4 linked regions of the Homo sapiens genome follow. The protein of the gene in region 4 purifies or fractionates together with the protein of the main gene of each other region. This does not show direct contact. Each region holds a gene or a part of one and is shown on either strand. Other genes may lie near its edges. The genes, in order: SEC24A, ORAI3, ORAI2 and TRPC3.

Region 1 (4,861 bases), on a different chromosome or scaffold from region 4:
AGAGCTTGCAGTGAGCCAACATCGCGCCACTGCACTCCAGCCTGGGTGACAGAGCAAGATTCCATCTCAATAAATAAATAAATAAATAAATAAATAAATAAATAAATAAAAATAAATGGGTCAGTGATTGTGAAGGGGTCCAGAATACGCTACTATGGCATAAAAATTATTTTAAGCAGAAGGCATTTGAGTTCCTAAAATCTCTTATCTGCCTAAAACAGAGCCTTCCAAAAGAACTCAATTGTCATAATCTACTTCCCAGGGGCAACCAGGAAAGATGTCAATCTGACTCATGACCTGAGATGAGAAATTTCCACACCACACCTAAACAGATATCATCACAAAACTATCATATCTATTCTAAAAGCCCATTTATCCTTCCTATAAGTCGTCTGTTTTCCAGTAAATGTCCTCTCCCCCACCCCATTCTTCCCCTATTAAAATCGTGTAGAGGTTGGGCATGGTGGCTCATGCCTGTAATCCCATCACACTGGGAGGCCAAAGCAGAACTACTTGAGCTCAGGAGTAGGAGACCAGCCTGGGCAACACAGCGAGACTCCATTTCCACACAAAAAAATTAAAAATTAAAAAATTAGCCAGGAGTTGTGGCACATGCCTGTAGATCTAGCTTCTCAGGAGGCTGAGGCAAGAGGACTGCTTGAGCCCAGGAGTTTGACTTCAGTGAGCTATAATTAGGCATTCCACCCTGGGCTACAGAGTGAGAACGTGTCTCAAAAACAAAAAGGAAAAAGTGAGCATGATAGTCACCCAAGTAATGTTCCAACATATTCAAAATTAAAACAATCAAATCAACTGTGGTTTCAAACAAAATGTAGCATATTGTTTAATGTTTTAAAATTGAATTATATTGCTTTTGATTTTTTTTTGAGACAGAGTCTCGCTCTGTTGCCCAAGCTAAAGTGCAGTGGTGCGATCTCGGCTCACTGCAACCTCCGCCTCCTGGGTTCAGGCGATTCTCCTGCCTCATTCAGCCTCTCGAGTAGCTAGGATTACAGGTGTGCACCACCACGCTGGCTAATTTTGTATTTTTAGTAGAGACGGGATTTCACCATGTTGGCCAGGCTGTTCTTGAACTTCTGACCTCAAGTGATCTGGCCACCTCAGCCTCCCAAAGTGCTGGGATTACAGGCGTGAGCCACCATGCCCAGCCATATGTTGATATTTTTAATGTTTGGTTTTACAATAGTACAATAGCTATAACCCTATGAAGTTTACATCTAGTTTTGTGTTTGCATATACACATTTAATAAAAATAATTTTTGCCAGGCATGTTGGCTTGATCTTGTAATCCGAGCACTTTGAAAAGCCAAGGTGGGAGCACGGCTTGACCTCAGGAGTTCAAGAATAACCTGGGTAATATAGTGAGACCTCGTCTCTACAAAAAAATAAATAATTAGCCAGTTGTGGTGGCACGTGCCTATATTCCCAGCTACTTGGGAGGCTGAGGCGGGAGGATCACTTGAACCCAAGAGATCAAGCCTGCAGTGGGCTGTGATCATGCCCCTGCACTCTAGCCTGGGCAACAGAGTGAGAACCTGTGTCAGAAGTAAAATAAATAAATAAATAATTTAACATTGGGACAGCAGAGAAATATTTAGTATCTATACATTACTCAAATTTTTAAAAACTGATTTGAGGAAACAGCATTCATGGGATTTTATGTGGAATTGAATATGGGTGATGAAGAGAGGAAAAAATCTAGGATGACTCCTAGGTTTCTGACCTGAGCAACCTGGTGGATGGCCGTGTTTATTCATTTGAACAGAAAGAGAAAAGAATAGAAATGTAGGCCAGGCACGGTGGCTCATGCCTGCAATCCCAGCACTTTAGAAAGTCAAGGTGGGAGGATCACTTGAGGCCAGGAGTTTGAGACCAGCCTGGGCAATAGCAAGTCCCTATCTCTACAAAATATAAGTTTTGGTTGTGTGTGTGTGTGTGTGTGTGTGTGTGTGTGCGTTTTTCAGAAATGAGGTCTCGCTCTGCCACCCAGGCTGAAGTGTCACAGCTCACCGCAGCCTCGACCTCCCAAGCTCAAGCGATCCTCCCACCTCCCCTCTTGAGTAGCTGGGCCTACAGGCGTGCACCATTATGCCTGGCTAATTTTTAAATTTTTTTGTAGAGATGGGGTCTCCCTAAGTTGTCCAGGCTGGTCTCGAACTCCTGGGCTCAAGGGATCTTCTTGACTCGACCTCCCAAAGTACTAAGATTACAAGCATGAGCCACTCCACCCACTTGATCAAGGATCAAGGATTACTTGAGCCCAGGAGTTCAAGGCTGCAGTGAGCTATCATTGCATCATTGCATTCCGGCCAGGGCGACAGAATGAGAGCTGTCTTTAAAAAAAAAAAAAAAAAAAAAGTCGGATGCAGTGGCTCATGCCTGTAATCCCAACACTTTGGGAGGCCGAGGTGGGTGGATCACCTGAAGTCAGAAGTTCGAGACCAGCCTGACCAACACGGTGAAACCCCGTCTCTACTAAAATACAAAAATTAGCCGGGCATGGTGGCACACGCCTATAGTCCCAGCTACTCAGAGGCTGAGGCAGGAGAATTGCTTGAACCTGGGAGGCGGAGGTTGCAATGAGCGGATATCGTGCCACTGCACTCCAGCCTGGTTGACAGAGCAAGACTCTGTCTCAAAAAAACAAAGGTGGGGAATGGCAAAGGGAAGAGAGATCGAAGAGTTATTTTAAACACACTAATTTTCAGGTGCCACCAAGAAATCTAAGTGGAGATGTCCAGTATAAAGATATTTATCTGCGCTGGGCGCGGTGGCTCAGGCCTGTAATCCCAGCACTTTGGGAGGTCAAGGCGGGCAGATCATGAGGTCAGGAGAGCAACACCATCCTAAGACGGTGAAACCCCATCTCTTCTAAAAATACAAAAAATTTGCCGGGTGTGGTGGCACATGCCGGTGGTCCCAGCTACTCCGGAGGCTGAGAAAGGAGAATCGCTTGAACCCAGGAGGCAAAGGTTGCAGTGAGCCAAGATCGTGCCACCTCACTCCAGCCTGGGCAACAGAGCAAGACTCTGTCTTAAAAAAAAAAAAAAAAAGATATTTAGCTGCAGCCAAAGTGACAGATTTCACCTTAAGATATAATTATGGGAGTCACTGATCTATGCATAAGATTTAAAACCATGGGAATTAAAGACACCCAGGGAGTATATAAGAGTAAGAAAAATAGGTCACCTTGAAGAACACCAATATTTAAGGAGGAGAGAGAAAAAAACAATCAGAAATGGAAGAAATATTGAGAATACTGCTGTTGAGAAATAGCAACCAAAAAAAAGAAAGAAAACCATAACTACCCTTCTGGTGATATCCTAGAAACCAAAGAAAGCAATTGTTGTAAAAACAAAATAACAGCCAAAGGTATCAAATGCAGCTCGGAAAATGAGAACTGAAAAATATTTTTCTATTTAATAACCAGGAAGCCATTTGTGGCCTTATTTATTTATTTATTTATTTTGAGATGAATTCTTGCTCTGTCGCCCAGGCTGCAGTGCAATGTCATGATCTCGGCTCACTGCAACCTCCACCTCTCGGGTTCAAGTGATTCTCCTGCTGAGAATCACTCAGGAGGCTGAGGCCTCCTGAGTAGCTGGGATTACAGGCGCACGCCACCACACCCGGCTAATTTTTGTATTTTTAGTAGAGACAAGGTTTCACCATGTTGGCCAGGCTGGTCTTGAACTCCGGACCTTGTGATCCACCCGCCTTGACCTCCCAAAGTGCTGGGATTACAGGCATGAGCCACCACGCCCAGCCTTGTGGCCTTATTAAGGACAATTTTGGGATGTGTGGGTAAAGAAGCTAAATTAGAAAGTTAGAGGCAAGAATGAATGCAGATGAGTGCTTCCCACCCAACCAGCAGCTTCAGAATCAGAGGAACCTGCTATAATAATGGTACAAATTGAGATCCCAGGTCCCACCTTTGTAAAATCCTATTTCATAGGATTCAAAAGGATCCCAGAATCTGCATTAGTAAAAAATCTCATGTGGCCGGGTGCGGTGGCTCACACCTGTAATCTCAGCACTTTGGCTCAGGCGGGCAGATCACCTGAGGTCAGGATTTTGAGACCAGCCTGGCCAAAAAGCTGTACGTTTCTTTAGGAAAGCCTGGGCCAGGCGTAGTGGTTCACACCTGTAATCCCAGCACTTTGGGAGGCCAAGGTGGGAGGATCACGAGGTCAGGAGTTCGAGACCAGCCTGGCCAAATGGTGAAACCCATCTCTACTAAAGACACAAAAAAATTAGACAAGCATGGTGACGCACACCTGTAATCCCAGCTACTTCAGGGGCTGAAGCAGGAGGATTGCTTGAACCATGGAGGTTAAGGCTGCAGTGAGCCAAGACTGCACCACTGTACTCTAGCCTGGGGGACAAAGTGAGACCATTTCTGAAAAACCAAAACAAAACAAAACAAAACTGCAGTTTCTAACTGGCTTTGCAAGTTGATTCAGTCAATAAAGGCACTAATTAATGGTGGGAGTCATTATTTGCCTTTAGCGTTAATACATGATAATCAGATTAAGATCCATTAGTTTAAGGTCTTGTAGTCTGCTATCAATTTTTGCAAAGGAAATATGTATACACAAAGACTTAGAAAAACCTCTCAGCTGGGCGCAGTGGCTCACGCCTGTAATCCCAGCACTTTGGGAGGCCAAGGCAGGCAGATCACGAGGTCAGGAAATTGAGACCACCCTGTCCAACATGGTGAAACCCCGTCTCTACTAAATATACAAAAATTAGCTGAGCATGGTGGTGCACGCCTGTAGTCCCAGCTACTCGGGAGGCTGAGGCAGGAGAATCACTTGAACCCGGGAGGCAGAGGCTGCAG
Region 2 (5,455 bases), on a different chromosome or scaffold from region 4:
CAGTGACTTGGGATTCCCACCCAGGGACTCAAGCCAGCCACCCCCTTCTTTCCCCCCTGCACTGATATCTCTGGGGGTTTCTCCTTCCTATGTCCTGCCCCTGCTACCTGCTTCATTGTCCATCCCCTGGGGGAGTGGGTCAGAGGTACTGGAGGGTGCTGAGCCGAAGGGACGGTGGGAGGGGGGTTATGGTGCAAGTGTTGGGGGGGAGAATGGGGAAAGGACACACACAGGATATGGGAGCCAGGGGCTGGGGGAGGTGGAAGGGGCGGGGGGCGGGGCAGACAGCAGACCACCAAGGGTTCAGGGAACAAAGACCAGTTACTTGGAGTGGGGGGTGGGGGTGGGGCCACAAAAGGAAAACCGGAGGAGCAATTGGGGATCCAGGTGTCAGAGGTAGGGGAACCAGGGGCAAGCTGGGGCTGAGCTGGAGGTGGGGATGAGAGCAGGTGTGGGGACAGCAATACCCCCTTGGGGGTCACCTCTCTGCTTCCCCCCTCCCCAGGCTTCAGTTCCTTCCCCCTGACCCTGACTCCTTGAACGTCACTGAAAACGGCAGCTATTGCAAGGAGTGGGGGCCGCGGGCAGCCGCTCTTCAGCTCGCGGCCCAGGGGAGTGGCGAGGGGCGCCCCAACCCCCTGCCCGCCTCTCCGCACAATACTTGAACATTCATCTGTACTGAAGTGTTACTTGAACCGGGGGAATCTCGGACCTGGGGGAGCCGGGGTGTGAGGGGACTGGACCAGCTTGGACTGAGACCTGAGACCGGGCCGGTGGGCGCCCATTTGGGACTGCGCCACCCCCAGGCTTGTTCTTGTTTTACTGTATTGAGCGGCGGCACCCGCCGGACCCGCATTATGGCTGGGGGCGCCAGCCCAAGAATGGGGACCATGGGACTCCTCCAGCCTGGCTCTTCCCACTCTTTCATCGTCATGGAAACTTGTATCCCATTTGCCCAGGGAACTGCCACTCCTGGTTGCCATGGAAATAGCAGCCAACGGACACCTCCCGATGCCAGTGCTAAGGCTGGAAATGGCCCCCTCTTAGTTGCCATGGGAACCTAGTAACAGACTCTGCTGGCCCTCCTTCCCTGCCCCTTCCTCGAGCGCGGGGTGGGGCTTCGGGACCCCGGGGATGAGCCGGGCCAGGTCCCGCCCCTCCGCGCAGGCCTCCGGGGGGCCGGGGCTTACCATGTAGGGGAGGGGAGATCTATCCACATACCTCAGGTAACAGGGAGGTGCGCGGGTGGGGGGAGGGCTGGGCGGACCAAAGGCCGGAGGGGTGGGGCCTGGGGATAGCGAGAGGCTTGAGAATGGGGCCGCTTGGGGGAGGGAAGAGGCAGCCCGGCGAGGGGCAAGCGGGGGACCCAGCCGGGCTGGGCCCCTGGGCCCCGGGTCTGTACAATACGGTTTGCTATAAAACTCAAAATCTTCCAGCCGGGGCTGCGGAGTTCGTGTGTGTATCTGCGGGGTCCCTACCTACAGATGAGTGGGCTCACCTCTCCTGGACTCATTTTGGGAGGGATTTGGAAGTGTGGACACCTGGGGTGTCCAGCTGTACCTTGGAGGGGGCTGGGGTTGGCGTGCACCTCGGTGGGGTCCGGGCGCTTGGATAACGTTCTTGGTGGGTAGGGGTCGCGGGGAATCTCTGCGGGCCCGGGACTGCGGGGACTTGGTCCCCGGCTCCACCCCATCATGTGGCTAGCCCCGGCTCCGCCTCTGTCCCAGTTCCTGTTTTGGCCTCCGCTGTCCCGCTCCGGCTCCTGGGGCTCCCCGCAGACGCTGCTTTTCTTGCTCCACTGGGGGTGCCTCTTCCTGGGCGCCCGCCGCCTGCATCCTGCTCGTCCTGTCTGGGAATGGGGCCGCCCCCGGGCTTGGGCCGGCCCGGCTGGGGCCCCCGAGGCGCTTCCGCCCCGTAGTGACCGCCTGGTGCCGCCCCCCCCCCAGGATGAAGGGCGGCGAGGGGGACGCGGGCGAGCAGGCCCCGCTGAACCCTGAGGGCGAGAGCCCTGCAGGCTCGGCCACGTACCGGGAGTTCGTGCACCGCGGCTACCTGGACCTCATGGGGGCCAGTCAGCACTCGCTGCGGGCGCTCAGCTGGCGCCGCCTCTACCTCAGCCGGGCCAAGCTCAAAGCTTCCAGCCGCACGTCTGCCTTGCTCTCGGGCTTCGCCATGGTGAGGGGCCGGGAGGGGTCACACCCGGTGGGGCAGAGCAAGTGGGGGGCACAGGTCGGGGGGGGGGCGAAGTAAACAGGTCCCAAGGGAGACAGGTTAAAGGGGGCTTTCGTCAAAGGGGGAAGGAACAAGGTCCCGCGGGACTGAGCAAGTCCCTTCTTACGGATGTGTGTGTACAGGGGACCCCAGGAGACGGGGCCACCGGAGGACACGAAAGTCCTAAAGGTGTCGTAGTGGGAGTGGGGTGAACAAATCGCTGGTGGGGTTGACTGCAACAGTGAGGCAGAGTGGTCCAGATGGAGCCTGTACCTGGCAGAAGTGGTTCCTAAGTCCCAGTGCCAGCTTCAAAGGCAGGTCAGCTGGGTGGGGGCTGCATCAACAGGTGGGGGGCTCGAGATGGATTAGCTGGGTGGAAGGGTCACCCAGCTGAAGGTGGGCCCGTCCCAGGGAAGGTGGCCACTCTCCAGCGGGCCCAAGGGGTGCTAGTGTCAACCAGGAAAACTGACAAGAGATCATGCCCGGGAGGGAACCGCTGGGGAAGGAGGCTGATGAGGAAACTGATAAGCGAGTCTCAAGCTGATAAACCCCAGGTGCAGGAGGACGGTGTTGGCTAACGGTCTGCCCCAGCAGTGGCCTCACAGGAAGTGGGATGGAGGGAGGTCCCAGGGTGAGGATCAGCAGACACAGTCCTGGCTCCTCCCTGCTTGTGGCCAGCTGTGTGACCCTGGACAGGCCTCCACCCCGCTTGCAAGCCAGTGGGAAACTGAGATCATGGAGGGTGCGCCCTCTGTAGCCAGCCAAGTAACCGCCCCAGGGTGAGCCAGGCATGTCAGAGCAGGTCACGTACCAAGGATGGCTCAGACTAGCCTGCTAATTGGACAGGTGTGGAAAGTAAAAGCCTTGCCTCTGGGCAGGAGCGAATGAACTGGGACCCAGGGTTGCTGCTCTGTTAGTCTGGGGTTGCCCCACCATCACCCCAGGAAAAAGGAGAAAGTGAGCTGCAGGAGGTACTTTGGGGAACGCACTCCTGTGGGGGTGGATATCAGAGGCGGTTGGGGTGGGGACCATGGCGCTAGGGGATCTGGGCTAGTCCCTGCCCTGTCTGTGCCACAACCTCCATATTTGAACAATGACAGGGAAACTCTCTAACCCTAAGGGTCATCATAAGCCTATGGTCTTCTATGTGGGGTCCCAGAATCCACAGACCAGCTTACCTTTCATGATGGGGGCATCACCTAGGGACAGGATGTTGGCTCCCCTTCATCTGCACAGCCTGCAGAGGGAAGGGAGCAGCCACCCAAGCTGAGGGAGGTCAACCCCATGGTCCAGCCTGTTCCCAAGGAGACAATCCCTCCACGGCAGAATATGCAGGTGCAGGTTGCTGGGGTGACAGCTTAAGGGCCCGAGCCTTCTCTGCAGGAGGAAGGGGCTGGAGGTTTAGGTTCCGGGGGCAGGACTGGCCGCAGTCCTAGCAGGGGTGACCGAGGCTGGGCCAGGCTCTGGGAGAAACCAGGACTAAGCCTGGCCCAGATCCCTGTCTGTGGAAAACACCTCCTGACACCTGCCATGGCCCAATTTCCCAAAATACTCAGCCCTGTTTTCCTACCTCCACCCGCCAGCCTCTACACCTACCTTCTTCTTTCCCCAGGCCCAGAGCAATCGAATGGACCCTACAAGAACCAGGGATGGGGAGAGAGTGGGCTTCTGAAACTCAGGTGGCCTAAGTTAGAATAGCATTATACAAATTGTATCCAGCTGTCACTAAGCACCAGGCACTGCCCTCAGTGCCTTTATATACATCATCTGTTAGCCTACAAAGTGGGTACTGCTACTCTGGCCATTTTACAGATGAGGAAACTGAGGATCAGAGATGTTAAGACACCTGCCCAAGGTCCCACAGCAAGTAAGTGGCAGGATTTGAGCCTAAGCCGTCTGGTTCCAGACTCCAAATTTATAAATTCCTAGAATAGGGTCATCAACTCAAATGTTTGCAAAGGGCCAGGCAGGTAATATGGATGCCAAATTGGCTGGGTAGGGACTAGCAAGCAAGAGACCCCATGACATTGGGGGTGATGGCTCACACCTTTCATCCCAGCACTTTGGGAGGCCAAGGCAGGAGGATCGCTTGAGCCTAGGAGCCCAGGAGTTCGAGTCCAGCCAGCCTGGGCAACATAGCAAGACCTGGCATCTACCAAAAAAAAAAAAAGAGAGACCCCATGACCTTTCCAAGGGGAGCAGCCATGACTGATTTGAGCTGATAGTTGCCATGCAGGAACGCAGGCCAAGTGTGGCTAGTTCTTCCAAGTTTTCAAGGGGATCTGGAAATAGGGATATAAGAAATCTCTTCAGTTTTACAAGTTGGCAGCATCTTCCATTTTTTAAGAAACACACTGTGTGAGCCAAGCAAAACACGTCTGCAAGCTGGCAGTGGTCCACAGTGTGCCGATTTGTAAACTCTGTCCTCAGACTTTAGCATTCACTATAGCAAGAACAGCAAACACATACCTAGTGCTTACTCTGTGCCTGGCACTGTTCTTTTTCTTTTTCTTCCTTTTCCTTTTCCTTTCCTTTCCTCTTTCTTTTTCTTTCTTTCTTTTCTTTCTTATCTTTCTTTTTTTTTTTTTTTTGAGACAGAGTCCCACACTGTCACCCAGGCTGGAGTGCAGTGGTGCGATCTCGGCTCACTGCAACCTCTGCCTCCTGGGTTCAAGCAATTCTCCTGCCTTAGCCTCCCAAGCTCCTGAGTAGCCGGGATTACAGGCGCACACCACCACGCCCGGCTAATTTTTATATTTTTAGTAGAGACAGGGTTTCACCATGTTGGCCAGGCTGGTCTTGAACTCCTGACCTCAGGTGATCCGCCCAACTCGGCCTCCCAAAGTGTTGGGATGAAAGGCGTGAGCCACCACTCCCAGCCCATTTCATGTATATTTCATTTAATGTTTATACCAACCCTATAAGGCAGGGAGGTGCTGTTATCAATCTCTATTTCCAGATAGGAAATTGAGGCACACAGAGAACTGACTTGCTCAAGATTACACAGCTAGAGCAGAGAATGATCCCAGGCAGCCCAGCTCCAGAATCTGCTGTTTGATCCCTATGCAGTAAACCTGTTAGAAGCATGTCATCCAGCCCTTTTTTTTATTTTTATTTTTAATTTTTTTTTGAGACAGAGTCTTGCTCTGTTGCCCAGGCTGGAGTGCAGTCACATGATCTCGGCTCACTCAAACTTCTGCCTCCTGGGTTCAAGCAGTTCTCCTGCCTCAGCCTCTCAAGTAGC
Region 3 (5,383 bases), on a different chromosome or scaffold from region 4:
TACTCGGGAGGCTGAGGCAAGAGAATCGCTTGAACCCAGAAGGCGGAGGTTGCAGTGAGCCAAGATTGCGCCACTGCACTCCAGCCTGGGTGACAGAGCAGGATTCCGTCTCAAAAAAAGAAAAGAAAAGAAAAAAAAGAAACGAAAAGAGTAACTTCTATGTCCAGGCCCACATAGGCCCCACGGAAAGTCTATGTCAGGCTGTTACACACAGATCCGTGTTTCTAGGTCCCAGGGAGCGTGGCTGGGGTGGACGGGTGGAGTGGGGAGTGCTTAACAGGGTCAGCAGCTGAGGAAATGCCCCAAACTTAGTCCATCCATGCCAGAGTCGAGCCCCCCATAATTGAAAATGCCCCAATTTGGAAATTACGCAGGAAGGTGCTGGAGGTGGAAAACAGTGTCGCCTTTCCCTTTGTTCTCAACAAGGCTACAAAGCCACAGCCTTCCCTGGCCAACAAGACCTCTGGGAACAGTTCTGTGCTATTTCTGCCAGGGGATGCCAATTACCAGGTCATTTATACGAATGCCAACTCAGGCTCTCCATCCCATCTCCTTGCGCACATCCGCAGCCAGCAGCACCGCATCCAAGCACTTCCATCCCTGGGACGTTCCTTCCCTTGGGGAGAATTCAGAGAAACGCTGCAATCCGTAGGTTAGCTCCACATAATAGAAAATGCTGTAATTTGGAAACTGCATTTTTCCTCTCCCCCCACCCCCATAGTTAACAGAATTGAGCATGCAGGTCTGATGACCGCAGTATACAGAGACTGGAGGGGTGAGACGCTAACCTTTGCTCCCTCCGTCCTCCCTCCTCCATCACACAGGTGCTTAGCGCACTTGGTACTTAAAGATCCAAGATGAAAGAGGCCAGAATTCATGGCCTCCCAGTAGGGGAGCAAGGTAAGGGGATGTGGGTCAGGAGCAGTAGCTCACACCTGTCATCTTTGGGAGGCTGAGGTGGGCGGATCACTAGAGGTCAGGAGTTCGAGACTAGCCTGGACAACATGGTGGAAACCTGTCTCTTCTAAAAATACAAAAAGTAACTGGGCATGGTGGTGGGCGCCTGTAATCCCAGCTACTCAGGAGGCTGAGGCAGGAGAATTGCCTGATCCCAGGAGGCGGAGGTTGCAGTGAGCTGAGATCCTACCGCGGCACTCCAGCCTGGGTGACACAGTGAGACTCTGTCTTAAAAAAAAAAAAATAGCTGGGTGTGGTGGCAGAGGTTGCAGTGAGCCAAGAGCACACCACTGCACTCCAGCCTGGGCAACAGAGCGAGACTCCATCTCAAAAAAAAAAAAAAAAAAGAGGGGGGGGCAATCCTCATCCACTGAGCTAAAGGCTTCAATGGAGGGCAGGGAGCAGAGGACTGGCTGCCTCACACCAAGGCCAGGAAAAGGTGCTTGCAGGTAACACCGGGGAGGGGACAGAGCGGCCCTTTGCATGCCAAAGTGCCTCATGCCTGTAATCCCAGTGTTTTGTGAGGCCAAGGTGGGAGGATCACCTGCGGCCAGGAGCTGGAGACCAGCCTAGGCAACAGAGTAAGACGCTGTCTCTAAAAATAATTTTTTTTGACATGGGGTCCTGCTGTGTTACCAAGGCTGGAGTGCAGTGGCACAATCTCAGCTCCCTGCAAATTCTACCTCCCAGGCTCAAGCGATCCTCCCGCCTCAACCACCCGAGTAGCTGGGACTACATGTGTGTGCCACCATACCTGGCTAATTTTTGGTATTTTTGGTAGAGACAGGGTTTTGCTATGTTGGCCAGGCTGGTCTAGAACTCCTGAGCTCAAGTGATCCGCCCACCTTGGCCTCCCAAAGTGCTGAGATTATAGGCATGAACCACTGCGCCTGGCCTCTAAAAAGAATTTTAAAAAAGAGGGACCTTTCCTCAAAGACAAGATGCTGCCTGCATGGAAGGATTCCGAGAGACGGGAAGGCCACTCCAGGTGTACATGTGGGGTGGCTCTCCTTGTCCAGGAGATATGGAGGGAAGACTGGCTGCCACCTGGGGGGTGGAGGGGGCAGGGAGATGTGGGTGGAAGACACTTGGAGCCTGGGGCTGTGGAATGAGCCAGAGGGTCTGGGCAGCATGACTGGGCGTCCAGCCACAGGAGAATGGAAGAAATTGGTGAGTGGAACGGTCTGGGCACTGCTAGATCATTCTGGTTTGGGACCACAGTTCAACCCAGGGAAATGGCTGGCCGACTGGCAGGAGTGGGACGCAAGGGAGAGCCTGGTGGCCTCCAAAGGAAGGAAGGGTGAACAAGAGGGATGCCCCATCAGTAAGGGTGGGCTGGGCTCAGGTCTGAGAGTGGAGGTGAAGAGCTCAGGGCAGTGAGGGCTGAGGGTGGCTTCCTGGGAGCCGCCAGGCCTCCCATGCCCCATCGGTGAGGCCCTGCAGATGTCCCCAGAGTGGGTGGGATTGTGGAGGAAACGATGTCTGTCTGCCTGGAGCTGGGTCTTGAGACAGGTCTCCAGGTCTCGAAGGAGCAGCCCAGGAGGGGGTTCAAATCCATCCTTTATGTTCCCAATGCCAACTGTGTGTGCCAGGCCCGGTGGCCCAGGGGGAGGGACAGAGTCTGGGCCTCACACTGGATCCCAGGCAGGGGGTGGGGTGGGGCAGGATGGAGCCCTGTACTTCTGTCAGGTGGCACAGACCCTAGAGGATGCTCCGGGACTGAACCTTGTGGGGTTGCTTTTTTTTTTTTTTTTTTTTTTTTGCTTTAATGAGCAGTCCGAGAAAACAGGTCTTGTAGAATAACGCGATCCCCTCTCTAGAGATGAGCTTTTCTTCCTGGCTGGCCTACTGGACACATTTCCAGAGGGCGGTCTTGGAGTTTGACTTCCTCTAAGCATCTGGGGCACCGGCAATGGCGAGTGTCTCTCTCCAGCAGGCGCACTGGGAGGGGGCCTCCCAGGGGCGCTAGGCTGCATCCCTGTCCCTCCCCCAGGGACGCCCCGGTGTCCGGAACCGGCTGCGCCGCCGACCCTGATCCTCTGGGCGCCGCACCCCGCCAGGGATCCCGCGGGGTGGAGGTCACCAACCCCGGATGGGTAGTGACCGCGCCCGGGCAGCCTACAGTCGTCCCCTTCCCCGCCGAGCGTCCCCGGTCCAATTCCGGCCCCCCCAGCCGCAGGGACCCCGCTCCCCGCGCCAGGCCCCCGCGCCGCCACACTCACCGGAGCTGCCCTCGCCCCGCCCGGCTCGGCTCCCGCTCGGACTGCGTGGCCGCGTGGCCTGTGGCCCAGTGGCCCGGCCGGGGCGCCGAGCGCGGCCCCCTCCCTCCTTCCGCCGGTCGCGCGGGGTCCCCCGGCCCCGCCTCCACCCCGCCCCCGCGGCCGCCGCAGCCGCTGCCAAGGCAACCAGGCGCCGCCAACACGTGACCCACCCGCGGGAGAGCCGCGGCCACGTCACCCGCCGGGCCGGGAGGGGCGGGGCTGGCGGCGCCTCCTCGGAGAGTGGGGGGGTGGGGGTCCCCGCCTCACCTGGAACCACCCCGGGATCGCGCGAGGGAGAGGAGCAGGGGAGGTGGGAAGACCCCGACCCGCGCGCATCCCTCCTGCCCCAGCTCCTGTCCCCGGCCCCAGCTCTGGGAGTCAAGGCGAGGCCCCCCACCGCCCCATCGGGGGTCCGGCTACCCACAGACCACGAGCTGGGCTTTCCCTGCCCCTGGGTCCGGGCGCAAAAGGGGAGCCCCAGGCTTGGCAGGGTGAGCCTCGGGGGGTGCCCAGCATTGGACGCTGGCTGCGTAGAGGGGCGGGGAGTGGGGACAGGGCGGGCGGGTGCAGGTGGGCAGTGGAGGGGAAAGGAAGGTGGGGAGGGGAGAATCCGTCTGGCCACGCCCGAGTTTTCACAGGATTTTTTTTTTTATTTTTTTGAGACAGGGTCTGGCTCTGTCGCCCAGGCTGGACTGCAGTGGTGCGATCACGGTTCAATGCAGCCTCGAATTCCTGAGCTCGAGTGATCCTCTGCCCTCAGTCACCCAAAGTGCTGAGGCTACATGTAGGCAGGAGCCACCACACCGTGGTAGTTTTTAAAAAATTTGTTTTTGTTTGTTTTTTGAGAGGGAGTTTTGCCCTGTCACCCAGGCTGGAGTGCAGTGGTGCCATCTTGGCTCACTGCAACCCCCGACCCCGGGGTTGAAACGATTCTCCTGTCTCAGCCTCCGAGCTACAGGTGCACGCCACTAGCCTGGCTACTTTTTTGTATGTTTAGTAGAGATGGGGTTTCACCATGTTGGCCGGACTGGTCTTGAACTCCTGACCTCAGGTGATCCTGCCTGCCTCGGCCTCCCAAAGTGCTGGGATGATACATGTGAGCCACTGTGCCCAGCCAAAAAAAAAAAAAAAAATTCTTTTTTTAGAGATAGAGTCTTCCTGTATTGCCCAGACTGGTCTTAAACTCCTGGCCTCAAGCAATCCTCTCTTAGCCTCTCAAAGCACTGGGATTACAGGCATGTGCCACAATGTCCAGCTAATTTTTAAATTTTTTAAAAAAATTGAGATGGGTCTTGCTATGTTGCCTCTGCTGGTCTCGAACTCCTGGGCTCAAGTGATCCTCCCACCTCAGCCTCCCAAAGTGCTGGGCATAGAGGCATGGGCCACCTTGCTTGGCCCCTGCCCAGGGTGTTGGATGGCACCATGAAGAGCTTGCACTGAGCTAATTGGGGGTTGCCACCCAGAGTGCACTGCCACTCACAGACCCAGCGAGACCCCTGGGGTCCCAACTTCAGTGCAGCGTGCTGTCCTTCTCATGCTGTTCGCAGACAGCAGCAAAGAGTTTCTGCTGTGCCCTGGCCCCTTCCACTCCCTACTGCAGGGAGCCTCTCACCTTTAACGGTGAATTCTCTGCGGTTTTACGAGCGAGGCAGTCAAACAGGAGCATTCTTTTCAGGAAGTGCAGCACATGAATAATTCACAGACAGACAAGATGGGTTCCTATCAGCCCGGCGGTGCCAGACGGTCCCTTGGAGTCCTTCCTCCATGCCGGGTAGGCTGCTGCGTGCCCTACATAGGATTTTTCCATCTGTCACAACAGCATTGGACCGTGACACATTTATCCAAACGAAGGAAAAATTCCACTCATGTCAGCCAGCCCACATTTTATGACAATTGGAAGAGTAGATGTTACGGACGCCAGGTTAAATCCATCTACACTTCGAGTTGTCTTTTACAGGCTACTGCTGACAGCCAGAATGAAACCAGGAGGACACTTAGTCTAATAAACCAGGTTTCCCCCTCCGGGTTACTGACCTAAAAGGCAAGTTAGGCCCTAACATGGACATAAGCAAATCCCAGGGTTCCTTACTGGCCCTCCTCCTGCCACCCCCATCAATGGCTATGGGTGAGGGAACATTTGAATTTCAGGGGTAAAGTCCTCAAAA
Region 4 (4,861 bases):
ATATGCTACTTTAGTCTATAGAGTACTTACTGAGTGTATAGTTTGTTTCCAGCAGTGGCATTATTGGGAACAAAGGGAGAGCAGGGAGGGTTTATGACCTTCCCACCTGGAAGAACTGCAGTAGAAGGGGGGCCCTATATTCATGACAACCAAACACCACTGGGTGAGAACAGATCTCACAATCTGGGTGTCTCCATGCTGCAGGAACTTGAAGGGAAAATGACTAAGGAAACTTGATCAAGGAAGACTTCATGGAAGAGGTGAGTCTCCAGTGTAGAAACCAGTATGGCCAAAGGAAGAAACTGGTATTACCATGATAGTGGGCTATAAAATGTTTAGCTATAACTTCCTCTTACTCGACTTCCTGTACCGATCAATGAATATATTAAAATAAAAGCTGATGCTTCCTTTTTGAAAGAAGAGTACTGGCTACAAAATGATGAAACTAATTTTAATGTTATACATAATGTAAGAGACATCCAGTATTAGAAATCTGTTATCCTGTTTTCTTAAAATAGCCAGTTTTGTCTAGGGTTTTTCCAAATTCTGACCCATTCTGTGGTCAAACTCTCACTAAGCTCAGAGATGAGCCTTCAGAGCAATATAATCAACACAAGCACTAACTGTTTTTGATGGATTATTTTCTGTGCTTAAAAACATCTTTATTACAATCAGAGAAATTTTTCCTTTGCTTCCTCTAGATTGGTTAGAATTTCTCTTTATCATACCTGTATAATAAGATATTTTACTTACGTGGTAAAAGCAGCATTAACTTTAGCCCCAAGGTAGTAAGAATAAAGTATGAACATGCCAATCATAAAGGCAAAAAACACCATAATAAAGAGGACCATGAACTTGAATATGTCCTTTACAGTCCTTCCAAGAGAGATCTGCAGGGGGCCAAAGCTCTCATTTGCAGGGAGGATGTACGCAATCCGAGAGAAGCTGAGCACAACAGCTATGGCATAAAGGCCTTCAGATATAATCTGAGGGTCAGAAGGGAGCCATTTATCTCTAGCTAGAAAAAAGAGAGAAAGAGATTAAAAATGGAGCTTTCTATTCATTGCCAACTACGCAAAGCAAATACCTTAAATAGGATCTATCTTGTAGGTAGGTGGTTACCATCTCAGTTGAAACTAATCTAGATTTAATTAACTGTCCAGGGACTATTTTCATCTTAAACCAGAAACGTAAATTCTATATTACTTTAGATGGAGGGTACACTATTATAAAGATACTAAGCTGACTCCACATTCAGCAGAAACAGAATAAAATACAAAACATGGAGAGGTTAAAACACTTCGTTAGACACAGACTGTATCCAGGATGACAAAACAACTGACTTGACTGATTTGTCCCTTCAGTCATTAGATTTACTGACCAGTTATTTTGTCATCCTATAGGCACAGCCGGAGTGTAACTTCTTTTCCATATCTTGTGGGAAAATTAGTTCATCCAACAATTCATGCAAATAAAATATTTCGAGGAGTGAGAATGTCACTGAATCACAATGGTGCTGACGATGTGTTATCTCAGCAATATAACTTGTCCCCGAAAAATGTAAAATGCCACTGAAGTAAAAGAATTTTGGATATAGATTCAGAATGAGGACCCCTAACAACCCTTTCAAGGTCACTTATTAAGTCTGCAGCAGACCTGTCAGGTCAATGAAATATTATGTGGTTAATTGTGCAAACTTGCAGACATCTGCAATAACAACAAAACTTAACATTTGTTGATCAGTTCAGCCACTGTGGAAAGCACTTTGAAGATTTCTCAAAGAACTTAAAACAGAACTACCATTCAACCCAGCAATTCCATTAGTGGGTATATATCCAAATGAAAACATATTGTTTTACCAAAAGACACATGCACTTGCATCTTCATTGCAGCACTATTCACAATAGCTAAGATACGGAATCAACCTAGGTGCTCATCAACAGTGGACTGGATACAGAAAATGTGGTACATATACTCCATGGAATACTATGCAGCCACAAAAAAGAACAAAAATCATGTCCTTTGCAGCAACATGAATGCAGCTGGAGGCCATTATCCTAAGTGAATTAATGCAGGAATAGAAAACCAAATACAGCAGGTTTTCACTTATAAGTGGAAGCTAAATAGTGGGTATTCATGGACATAAACATAGCAACAATGAAACTGGAAAACTACTAGAGGGAGGAGGAAAGGGTTGAAAAACATCTATTGGGTATATGCTCAGTACCCAGGTAATGAGGTCATTCCTAGCCCTAAACCTCAGAATCATGCAATATGCTCAGGTAACAAACCTGCACATGTGCCCTCTGAATCTAAAAAAAAGTTTAAAAAATTAACATTTCTTGACTATTTAATATGTGTCAGACACTGCTTTCAATGATCCTATGGATTTGATATTATTATCCTCTCTTTAGAGATGCAGAAACCAGACTTAGAAAGATTAAAAATTGATCAAAACAATACATATAGGAGATAGGGAAGCCTGAATCCATCCCTTCCAGACAACAGTCATCAAATATACATAAATAAATTTCAATAAATAGGTTATGAAATGGTCAAGATACCTAAAATACAATCTAAAATTAATTCTTTAATTACAAATGGTGATCATTTGCTCATTTGAACAAGTCTCCTTGGTATATAAAAGTCTTTGCTTGCTGAGAATAACAGAGGTGCTTAATTACATCTTATATTTTGGAGCGGAAGTCCAGCCTTCAATAACATTAACATGCTCCTTGTACTCATCACAATGTGCCCTAATTACACCTATAAAAAAGTATTCTTCACAACCAGATCACAGTTAAACTCTGTGCCTGAGTTCCCTTACCTGTAAGATGAAGATTAGACAACACTTTCTAAAGTATTTTCCAGATTTCAGATTTTACAACTATATCCAAATTTGCTAACTGTGGCTCCTCAATTTGGCCTCAAGGGAAGGGAGGCTAACATTACTTACCATTGGTTTGTACGGGGCAAGGAAGGCATCAATGTTCTTTCACACCGGATGTCAGCTGAGGTCTCACTGCTCTTCATAATATAGAGATATTTGACATGAACCCCATTCCATGCCATGTGAACAGGACAACATCCTCCCAAAATATTTCTGCTGGTTCTCCAGAGCTTACATTCTCACGGTCACTTTAGAACCTACTTCCTGCCTCTGTTGAATTACCGTTCACTTTGCCTGCAGAGCAGTTTGGCAACTTTTATTATCTTATCTCCTTGAACCCATGCTCTCAGGGACTTACCTTCCACATCAAGCAGTTTATCAAACTATTTTTTCCCTAATTAAGACAGTCTCCCAATAGTAATTATCTTATAGGCTTAAAGGTAATTTTCTTCCACCTTGCAATATTGTCTTTTTATAGCTATGAAAACTGAGGCACAGTGAAGCAAATTGACTTGAACAAGTTTACACAGCAAAGGGGGTCAGAGCCTTGAAATGAATCCAGTTTTGTAGGTTCCAAAGTTCATGCTTTCTCCACTGTCCATAAATATTCAATACACCTCTCATACTAAACATACTCCAATTGGCATTTCCTTCCAAAATGTGGTTCCAATACCTTTCCCAAAACACAAGGGGACCCTGAAGCTAACAACTTACCATAAGTGAAATACTGTATCTCTGGTGGGAGTGTCACTTCACTGAGGTCACTCTCTTGGACGTAACTGTCCACATACTGTTGTGCCTTCGTTGCCTGAAGGAAAGCTAGGAATCTGGCTGTGAAAGCAGCAATGAAGATGGACAGCATCCCAAAGTCAAGCACATTCCACAACTGCAAAATGTATTCCCTAGGTCCTTCCAGCCAGAGCTCTTTACATTCAGACCACATCATTCCTGTCACAACAAATACAGAGGGTGCAGGTCAGATTTTACAGGCCAGACTGAGAAGCCATTATTGTGTCCACCATCAGGTCACATCTCTACCCTACACGTCAAGCACAGTACTAGGCATCACAAAGCATTGACTGACTGACTGTATGGTCACTGAGGCCCTGTGCAGAGTTAAATGGAAGAAGCTCCTGCTAAGAAAATAATTCACCCCACCACACTAGAATTTGGAGAAGCGGTCCACATGTGGCACCAGAGATGTCTCTATTCATGAGAGGAGGTGGTGGAGGGGGGTGAGGAGAAGAAAGAAGGAAAGGAAATAAGGAGAGAAGGCTCTTCAAGTTATCCCATAAGACTTTTGGAGAAGAAAATATGTTCTATACAATCACAATGGTTAGTTATCAAACCATAGTGATTATTGGAGAAATAAGTCCACAAGATTTTTAACAAGAAGAACAGTTTCCCAATGATACTCATATCACACTCTTATCCTCTCTTCTCATTTCCATGTCATGCTAAAAAGTGAGCAATATCGTTTGAAAAAGATGAAACCCTTAAGTGAGAGGTCCTAGGACATTCTGAAGAAACTGAAAGCAGAAAATGCCATTCTGGGACAAGAGGACAAAATAGTACAACTTAACAACTTAACAAATTGTCCAACTTAACAAATTGTCCTGACTACATAAAGGGAAAATACTGTAGAATTTTTAAAAAATGTAATGGCTTAAAAGAAAATGTATAAAATAATTACTTGACCTAGGCTGAGGCCACAGGAGTGAATGGGAGGAAGAACTAACCTACTAACTCCGAAAATGAGAAGACACCAAGACTCACATTGGATAAAACAAATACAAAAATGACTTCGGATTAATCAGAAATAAACAACCTGGTTCCAATCTCCATTTCTTAGCAGAGAACACAATAAATTCTTTTCCTCACATTACTTCAAATTCTTATTTTAACACAGCTATTCAAAATGGGTTATTGTAAGACGAAATAGGTTGGTGCAAAAGTAATTGCAGTTTTTGC

Evidence for each region.
Region 1: the proteins of TRPC3 (region 4) and SEC24A purify together in Homo sapiens (affinity purification with mass spectrometry; one large-scale study listed by BioGRID and IntAct). This does not show direct contact.
Region 2: the proteins of TRPC3 (region 4) and ORAI3 purify together in Homo sapiens (co-immunoprecipitation; one study listed by IntAct). This does not show direct contact.
Region 3: the proteins of TRPC3 (region 4) and ORAI2 purify together in Homo sapiens (co-immunoprecipitation; one study listed by IntAct). This does not show direct contact.

Annotation. Positions count from the first base shown.
Region 1 is NC_000005.10:134,654,297-134,659,157, reverse strand, and holds part of SEC24A (protein transport protein Sec24A), read right to left. Parts: intron 1-4,861. UniProt on the Homo sapiens protein: Component of the coat protein complex II (COPII) which promotes the formation of transport vesicles from the endoplasmic reticulum (ER).
Region 2 is NC_000016.10:30,947,343-30,952,797, forward strand, and holds the start of ORAI3 (protein orai-3), read left to right. Parts: upstream 1-1,725; 5' UTR 1,726-1,947; coding exon 1,948-2,175; intron 2,176-5,455.
Region 3 is NC_000007.14:102,431,458-102,436,840, reverse strand, and holds the start of ORAI2 (protein orai-2), read right to left. Parts: upstream 3,267-5,383; 5' UTR 3,180-3,266; intron 640-3,179; exon of another isoform or gene 617-639; 5' UTR 508-616; intron 1-507. UniProt on the Homo sapiens protein: Pore-forming subunit of inward rectifying Ca(2+) release-activated Ca(2+) (CRAC) channels.
Region 4 is NC_000004.12:121,906,550-121,911,410, forward strand, and holds part of TRPC3 (short transient receptor potential channel 3), read right to left. Parts: intron 3,839-4,861; coding exon 3,605-3,838; intron 1,019-3,604; coding exon 754-1,018; intron 1-753. UniProt on the Homo sapiens protein: Forms a receptor-activated non-selective calcium permeant cation channel.